2 linked regions of the Homo sapiens genome follow. The protein of the gene in region 1 interacts with the protein of each later gene in a pairwise test. Each region holds a gene or a part of one and is shown in the gene's direction. Other genes may lie near its edges.

What was found.
Region 2: the proteins of RGS4 (region 1) and GABBR1 come close enough for resonance energy transfer, tested with the Homo sapiens proteins (one study listed by BioGRID).

What each region holds. Positions count from the first base shown.
Region 1 is NC_000001.11:163,074,025-163,078,481, forward strand, and holds the end of RGS4 (regulator of G-protein signaling 4), read left to right. Parts: intron 1-296; coding exon 297-536; 3' UTR 537-2,778; downstream 2,779-4,457. UniProt on the Homo sapiens protein: Inhibits signal transduction by increasing the GTPase activity of G protein alpha subunits thereby driving them into their inactive GDP-bound form. Activity on G(z)-alpha is inhibited by phosphorylation of the G-protein.
Region 2 is NC_000006.12:29,623,184-29,626,683, reverse strand, and holds part of GABBR1 (gamma-aminobutyric acid type B receptor subunit 1 isoform a precursor), read left to right. Parts: intron 1-2,659; coding exon 2,660-2,794; intron 2,795-3,208; coding exon 3,209-3,379; intron 3,380-3,500.

The sequences.
Region 1 (4,457 bases):
AAATCTCTTTTATCCATGTGGCTTACCATAACCTCCCTGCATGAATTTTTCTGATGAATCTCCCCAATTTGTTAGACAGAACAGAAGATCTTGCCCTGCTCTCTCTAAAGCAGAAAGGTTCATTCTGAACCTTTCATACTCTCTCACATGTGCCAAGGAGGACCCCAATGTCACTTTTGTTTTTTGCTTCTGAAATACAGAGGGTGCACTGCCACTTACAAGTCACTACAAAGCATACAGGCTTGCATCCTCAACAGGGATATAGGTCTAATGAAGCCTTGGCCTTTGCCCCTCAGGTGAACCTGGATTCTTGCACCAGGGAAGAGACAAGCCGGAACATGCTAGAGCCTACAATAACCTGCTTTGATGAGGCCCAGAAGAAGATTTTCAACCTGATGGAGAAGGATTCCTACCGCCGCTTCCTCAAGTCTCGATTCTATCTTGATTTGGTCAACCCGTCCAGCTGTGGGGCAGAAAAGCAGAAAGGAGCCAAGAGTTCAGCAGACTGTGCTTCCCTGGTCCCTCAGTGTGCCTAATTCTCACCTGAAGGCAGAGGGATGAAATGCCAAGACTCTATGCTCTGGAAAACCTGAGGCCAAATATTGATCTGTATTAAGCTCCAGTGCTTTATCCACATTGTAGCCTAATATTCATGCTGCCTGCCATGTGTGAGTCACTTCTACGCATAAACTAGATATAGCTTTTGGTGTTTGAGTGTTCATCAGGGTGGGACCCCATTCCAGTCCAATTTTCCTAAGTTTCTTTGAGGGTTCCATGGGAGCAAATATCTAAATAATGGCCTGGTAGGTCTGGATTTTCAAAGATTGTTGGCAGTTTCCTCCTCCCAACAGTTTTACCTCGGGATGGTTGGTTAGTGCATGTCACATGACATCCACATGCACATGTATTCTGTTGGCCAGCACGTTCTCCAGACTCTAGATGTTTAGATGAGGTTGAGCTATGATATGTGCTTGTGTGTATGTCTATGTGTATATATTATATATACATTAGACACACATATACATTATTTCTGTATATAGATGTCTGTGTATACATATGTATGTGTGAGTGTATGTATACACACACACACACACACACACACACACTTTTGCAAGAGTGATGGGAAAGACCCTAGGTGCTCATAACTAGAGTATGTGTATGTACTTACATGGGTGTTTTGATCTCTGTTCTTTCATACTACATTTGAACAGGGCAAAATGAACTAACTGCCATGTAGGCTAAGAAAGAAATGCTAACCTGTGGAAAGTTGGTTTTGTAAAATTCCATGGATCTTGCTGGAGAAGCATCCAAGGAACTTCATGCTTGATTTGACCACTGACAGCCTCCACCTTGAGCACTATTCTAAGGAGCAAATACCTTAGCTCCCTTGAGCTGGTTTTCTCTGATGGCACTTTTGAGCTCCTAAGCTGCCAGCCTTCCCTTCTTTTCCTGGGTGCTCAGGGCATGCTTATTAGCAGCTGGGTTGGTATGGAGTTGGCAGACAGGATGTTCAACTTAATGAAGAAATACAGCTAAGGCCTTGCCAGCAACACCTGCCGTAAGTTACTGGCTGAGTGAGGGCATAGAAGTTAAAGGTTACTGTTTTTATCCTCTATCCTTTTTTCCTTTCCTGATCAAGGTGCTCTTCTCATTTTTTCCTGAGAACCTTAGCCATCAGATGAGGCTCCTTAGTTTATTGTGGTTGGTTGTTTTTTCTTTATAATGGCTCTGGGCTATATGCCTATATTTATAAACCAGCAGCAGGGGAAAGATTATATTTTATAAGAGGGAACAAATTTTCACAATTTGAAAAGCCCACATAAGTTTTCTCTTTTAAGGTAGAATCTTGTTAATTTCATTCCAAACATCGGGGCTAACAGAGACTGGAGGCATTTCTTTTTAGGCTCTGAGACTAAATGAGAGGAAAAGAAAAGAAAAAAAAAATGATTGTCTAACCAATTGTGAGAATTACTGTTTGAAACTTTTCAAGGCACATTGAAATACTTGAAAACTTCTCATTTATGTTATTTATGATGTTATTTTGTACGTGTTATTATTATTATATTGTTTTATAAATGGAGGTACAGGATATCACCTGAATTATTAATGAATGCCCAGGAAGTAATTTTCTTCTCATTCTTCTAAAACTACTGCCTTTCAAAGTGCACACACACGCGTCCACATACACTGCATTCGTTGCTCCAGTATAAATTACATGCATGAGCACCTTTCTGGCTTTTAAGCCAATATAATGGGCTGCAAAATGAAGACACCAGAGTGTATGCATACAAATCTCACTGTATTAAAGATGCAGGTTTTCTAATTGTACCCTTCTTGTCTCTCTGGCAATCTTGCCCTTAATATCCCTGGAGTTCCTCATCAGTGTCATTTTCTGTTATACACAGTTCCACAATTTTGTCTCTAGTTGACTTCAAATGTGTAACTTTATTGGTCTTGCCCTATTATAATTGTCATGACTTTCAGATTGTATCTGAACTCACAGACTGCTGTCTTACTAATAGGTCTGGAAGGTCACGCTGAATGAGAAGTAAATTATTTTATGTAATACATTTTTGAGTGTGTTTTTCAGTTGTATTTCCCTGTTATTTCATCACTATTTCCAATGGTGAGCTTGCCTGCTCATGCTCCCTGGACAGAATACTCCTTCCTTTTGCATGCCTGTTTCTATCATGTGCTTGATAGGCCTCAAAGCTAATGCTTCCAGTGAAACACACGCATCTTAATAATAAGGGTAAATAAACGCTCCATATGAAACTATTTGCTTGGAAACACATTAATGATCCAGAGACATGCTATGAGAAACATCAGGGTGTAGGGTGACTTTAGAAAAATACTCATACTGAGTCTTTAATCCCTCCTGTGCCAGTGAACTCTGGGAAAGAAAGTACAAACTGAATATTGTTTATTCTTTAGTTCATGCCACTGCTCTGCTTGGCTCTACTCATAGAACCAAGGCAATCTTAGCTTCAGAGACTGCAAAACAGATTAAGTGATTTGCTTGCAGATTCTCAATCAATTTTCAAGGGATAGAGTTCACCTTCCAGAGCCATTCTTTTATTTCCAGTTACCCGCCTGTTTGAGAGATGATAGAGCAGTGGGAAATTGAGAGAGTTGAAAGGAGCTATAGATTCTTACCCAAACTTCAAAAATCCTTCCCTCCCTTTTGTTAATTCTCTTTCCTGGAAAAGAGGTCATAAAATGTTCACATCCTCAGTAATAGGCCCTGTGCTGTGTCTATTATGTCATGAGACTCCCATTTCCTGACCCTTCTTTCCCATTGTAAGAGTAGTAGTTACAAGGTGTTAAGGATAGATGATCTTCAACACTTTTGAGAAATAGATCCATTTACGGATCTGGTAAAAACTATGGACCGAACCATCTTTTAAGAAAAAAATTCAGAGAGGAATCTAAATTTTGTGTGCTTTGAGGGGAAACTCTCAGAATCTCCCCTCAAAACTATCATTCTTCTCTTATACTATAGATGTGTCAGACTCTCACTGGGACTGTATAGTTGCTGCTCCCTGTATTTGATAATATCTATCAAGAACTGCAGGGTAATTCAAAGTCACGCTATTAGCAGCAAGTGTGAGCAGTGTTGGTTTCCCCAGTCTCTACATCCCTCATCCTTTCTTTCTTCTTTATGGTTGTCTATTAAAGAAATAAAAAAAAATATTGGCTGACCGTTTTTCTGAAGATAATGTATATCAAGGACCACCTTTTGAAAAACACTCATTATTCGAGAACAAAGACACAACATACGAGAATCTCTGGGATACATTCAAAGCAGTGTGTAGAGGGAAATTTATAGCACTAAATGCCCACAAGAGAAAGCAGGAAAGATCTAAAATTGATACCCTAACATCACAATTAAAAGAACTAGAAAAGCAAGAGCAAACACATTCAAAAGCTAGCAGAAGACAAGAAATAACTAAGATCAGAGCAGAACTGAAGGAAATAGAGACACAAAAAACCCTTCAAAAAATTAATGAATCCAGGAGCTGGTTTTTTGAAAAGATTAACAAAATTGATAGACTGCTAGCAAGACTAATAAAGAAGAAAAGAGAGAAGAATCAAATAGACACAATAAAAAATGATAAAGGGGATATCACCACCGATCCCACAGAAATACAAACTACCATCAGAGAATACTATAAACACCTCTACGCAAATAAACTAGAAAATCTAGAAGAAATGGATAAATTCCTCGATACATACACCCTCCCAAGACCAAACCAGGAAGAAGTTGAATCTCTGAATAGACCAATAACAGGCTCTGAAATTGAGGCAATAATCAATAGCTTACCAACCAAAAAAAGTCCAGGACCAGATGGATTCACAGCTGAATTCTACCAGACGTACAAAGAGGAGCTGGTACCATTCCTTCTGAAACTATTCCAATCAATAGAAAAAGAGGGAATCCTCCCTAACTCATTTTA
Region 2 (3,500 bases), on another chromosome or scaffold:
GGGGCACCTTATGGAACTTGGGTCCTGACCTTCCCTTCCCTTATAGCATTGTGGCCTCTAGGATGTGAGAAGGGAAATGGGATGTAGGGATTAGGGAGGTGAGTTGAGGGAGAGAGAGAAGGTAAGCAAATTTGGGTCCAGGGGTATTAGGGGATAGCTTATAATGAGGTTTTTTTTCCCACCCCTCTCCCCTACATGAATAATTGGGGGTGCAGGGAAGGATGTGACACAGGGAAGGAGATTTAAGATCTCAAATTTATCTTCACTGACATGTGGCCCCAGAGACTTAAGGAATTGGGTTAGGGTGAAATAGAGTACACAAGGTGAGAATTTGGTGATCTTACCAAATATCAACCTTGGGGTGATCCAAGGATTTATATTCATTTTTAGAACATCACTATACACCTAGAAATAGGTGTGTGTCTGGGATAGGTGTGTGAGGGGACAGAAGTGAGGTTGAAGGTAGGGTGCTTGAAGAGAAGAGAGCACAAGGATTATCAGGAGCTTGGCAAGAGAACTTAAAATCCTTTTTGACTGTTACTTTCTCGTGGTTCTCAGCCTTCAGTGTACATAAGAATCACCAGAGGAGTTTGTTAAAAATACAGATTCTAGCTCCTTGGTCAGGGATGAATCCCAAGTATTTATCTGTATTTTTACTAATAGACATCCTATCTTGGTGGATTCCTGAGCTGTAAGCTAACCCCAGAATGCCTATGGGAAGAGCAGCAGGGTACAGGAAAATAATTAGGTATTAGGGTACGGGAGGCAGGAAGAGAAGTAGAGGATCAGATCTGGTAGAGGGTCAGACTTGGGACAGTCAGAGAGATCATTGGTTTTGGGGAGTGGAGTGTGAAGAAAATGACAGGGAGAGATGGGTGCAGGCTTTATGATAGGGGATCACAGGAGATAGGGGAGGCCTGGCTGTGAGCTCAAACTCATCCACCATGACAGGTGATTCCCTGGAGGTGGCGGGGAGCAGACGTGGGACCTGGGAGAAGGGAACTGGAGAACATCAGAGGCATCAAGCGGGGTGGGATGGGAAGGCAGAAGAACCAGAATGTGTCAATTGGAATGAGTCGGTTTCCTGCCTGCAAATCCAGATCCTTGCAAGAGCAAAGAGAGGGAGGAGAACTAAGGAAATCTATTGGGGAGGGGGAGAGAATCACGTGGTGGAGAGAATCTGCAGTGATGAATAGTGTGTGGAAGAGGGAAACGGTTGCAAGAAAAGGTAGATAAGAAATCAGGAAACAAAATGGGGGGCATGCCTTGCCCTGTTGATATGTATCTTATATGTTCTTGTATGTCCTCATTGTTCCTATTAACCCTGTCTTTAGAGAAGTGGAGGGGCACTGAGGGGCTGTGGGAGAAGCTGGGAGCAGGATCTGGAGTAATAGATGTGGGGAGAGTGCAGGAAGGTGGGTCCTGAGAATGGTAAAGATTTACAAAGTTGCCCTAGTGGGAGGCATAAAGAGAAAACCTTCCAATGTTGTTGAGCACTGCCCTTGGCCAGAGTGAGGGTAGGGTGGGCAACAGAGAATTCTCAGTGACTGCTGGTTCTTCAGATTCCAACAGCTTCCCCTGGCTCCCCCTTCTCCAACTTCCCACCGTGTCCCAAATGTCAGGCCTCAGTGGGAGGTAAGCAGGCTCCAGAGTGCTTTCTTTATTTCCTTTCTACTTATCCTCCCCTCCTGGCAACATTTCACCCTCCTTAGTCCCCTGAGCCCCCTGTCTGTGTCCCCTCTGCCCTGGCTCCCCACTGGCTGCCATTTCGTCTTCACATGCATTGGGGTTCCAGCAGCTTCTGAAATGTCATATATCAGTGGGAGGGGAACAGGCAGTGGGAGACCCAAGGCTGGCTCTTCCTCCCCCATTTCCCCTCCTCCCAAGCTTCCTTTCTTCTCCAGCTTTCTGCTTGTTTACTTTCCCTAGCTCCAAGCCTCTCTTTAAGGCACCTCTCAAATTGTCTGGTTTCTTGAGAGTTCCATTCTATTCATTCTCTCTGTTCTTTCCTCATCCTACATTCTTCCCTACTTCCACCCCCCAGTGTCTTTTTTTCTAATGGACCTGTCAAATGTCAGCGCCCAGCAGGAGGGATGGATCACTGAGCGGGACCCCCTACTGGTCTTGTTCCTGTTCTCTCTTTACTTATCACTAGCTCTGAAAAGAGAAGAGGGAGGAAACAAATGGAAGGTGGGGAGAAGGGGTTTGCAGAGGTGAGGAAGGAATTTTCATAATATGGCTTTGAGCAAGCTATCTGGGGATGTGGAAAGAGTTTACCGTATTCCTACTGACTTCTTCCACCCACTGGTGTTTGAAGCATAGAAACATGGGGTAAAGGGCTTGGTGACAGAGGGAAGGGGGATGTCTGAGGGTGAGCTGAAAGGAGGTAAGGTGGTATGTTCATTAATACCAAAGGAGGGGTGTGCAGGAGAGGTGATGGGTAAGGCTCCAGATGGAAGACAGAGAAGGAAGTTTAATGAAAGAGGAGAAAAAAGGCACTTGACAGGAAGAGATGCCAGAAAGGAGAAGAAAACGGTAATTAATGATGAAAGTGAGTAATTGAGAAAGGAACTAATTTGTTCGAGAAAGATAAGAGCAGGAATTGCAGACAGGGGAGGGGCCCCAGGAGAGCTTGCCCTCATCTCCTCTTGTCTTTCAGTGTGATCCAGGCCAAGCCACCAAGTACCTATATGAGCTGCTCTACAACGACCCTATCAAGATCATCCTTATGCCTGGCTGCAGCTCTGTCTCCACGCTGGTGGCTGAGGCTGCTAGGATGTGGAACCTCATTGTGGTAAGCAGGGCTATGGGGGTCAGAAGATGGGGTCATTCCCTTTTGAGCTCTACTGAAGGGACGATGGCGATTGTGGGTTTGTATTGAAAAGGAGTGTGGAGGACCTGCTACTAAGATTCAGAGTCCTCTGCAGACCTGAGCTAGGCAGCCTCCTAGCAACAGTGGCCTGACAGTGCTGCAGCTGACCTCCTTCTTCAGAAGGAATTGAAATTAGATCAGTGAAAGAGCATCCCGGTTGTGAGGGGTGTGTGGGCCTTTGAGAATCTCTTTTCCTTAGGCAGACCAGAGGTGGGGAGGTTTGGAGAGAGTAAGGAAGAGAAACCCAAAGGCAGGAAGAGGGTTAAAGGAACTCTTGGCCACTCTTGGTGTCCTCAGTGAACAGACCCTGTTGCACTCACTCTCCCTGCCCCACAGCTTTCCTATGGCTCCAGCTCACCAGCCCTGTCAAACCGGCAGCGTTTCCCCACTTTCTTCCGAACGCACCCATCAGCCACACTCCACAACCCTACCCGCGTGAAACTCTTTGAAAAGTGGGGCTGGAAGAAGATTGCTACCATCCAGCAGACCACTGAGGTCTTCACTTCGGTGAGGAGGGGTTGGGCAAGGGGTAAAGGGACATAAGCTCAAATTCCAGCACCAGGAGATGTGACGTGAGAGTCACTTTTAGGGGCAAGAACTTGATTCTTCATTGAAAGAGAACGCATTC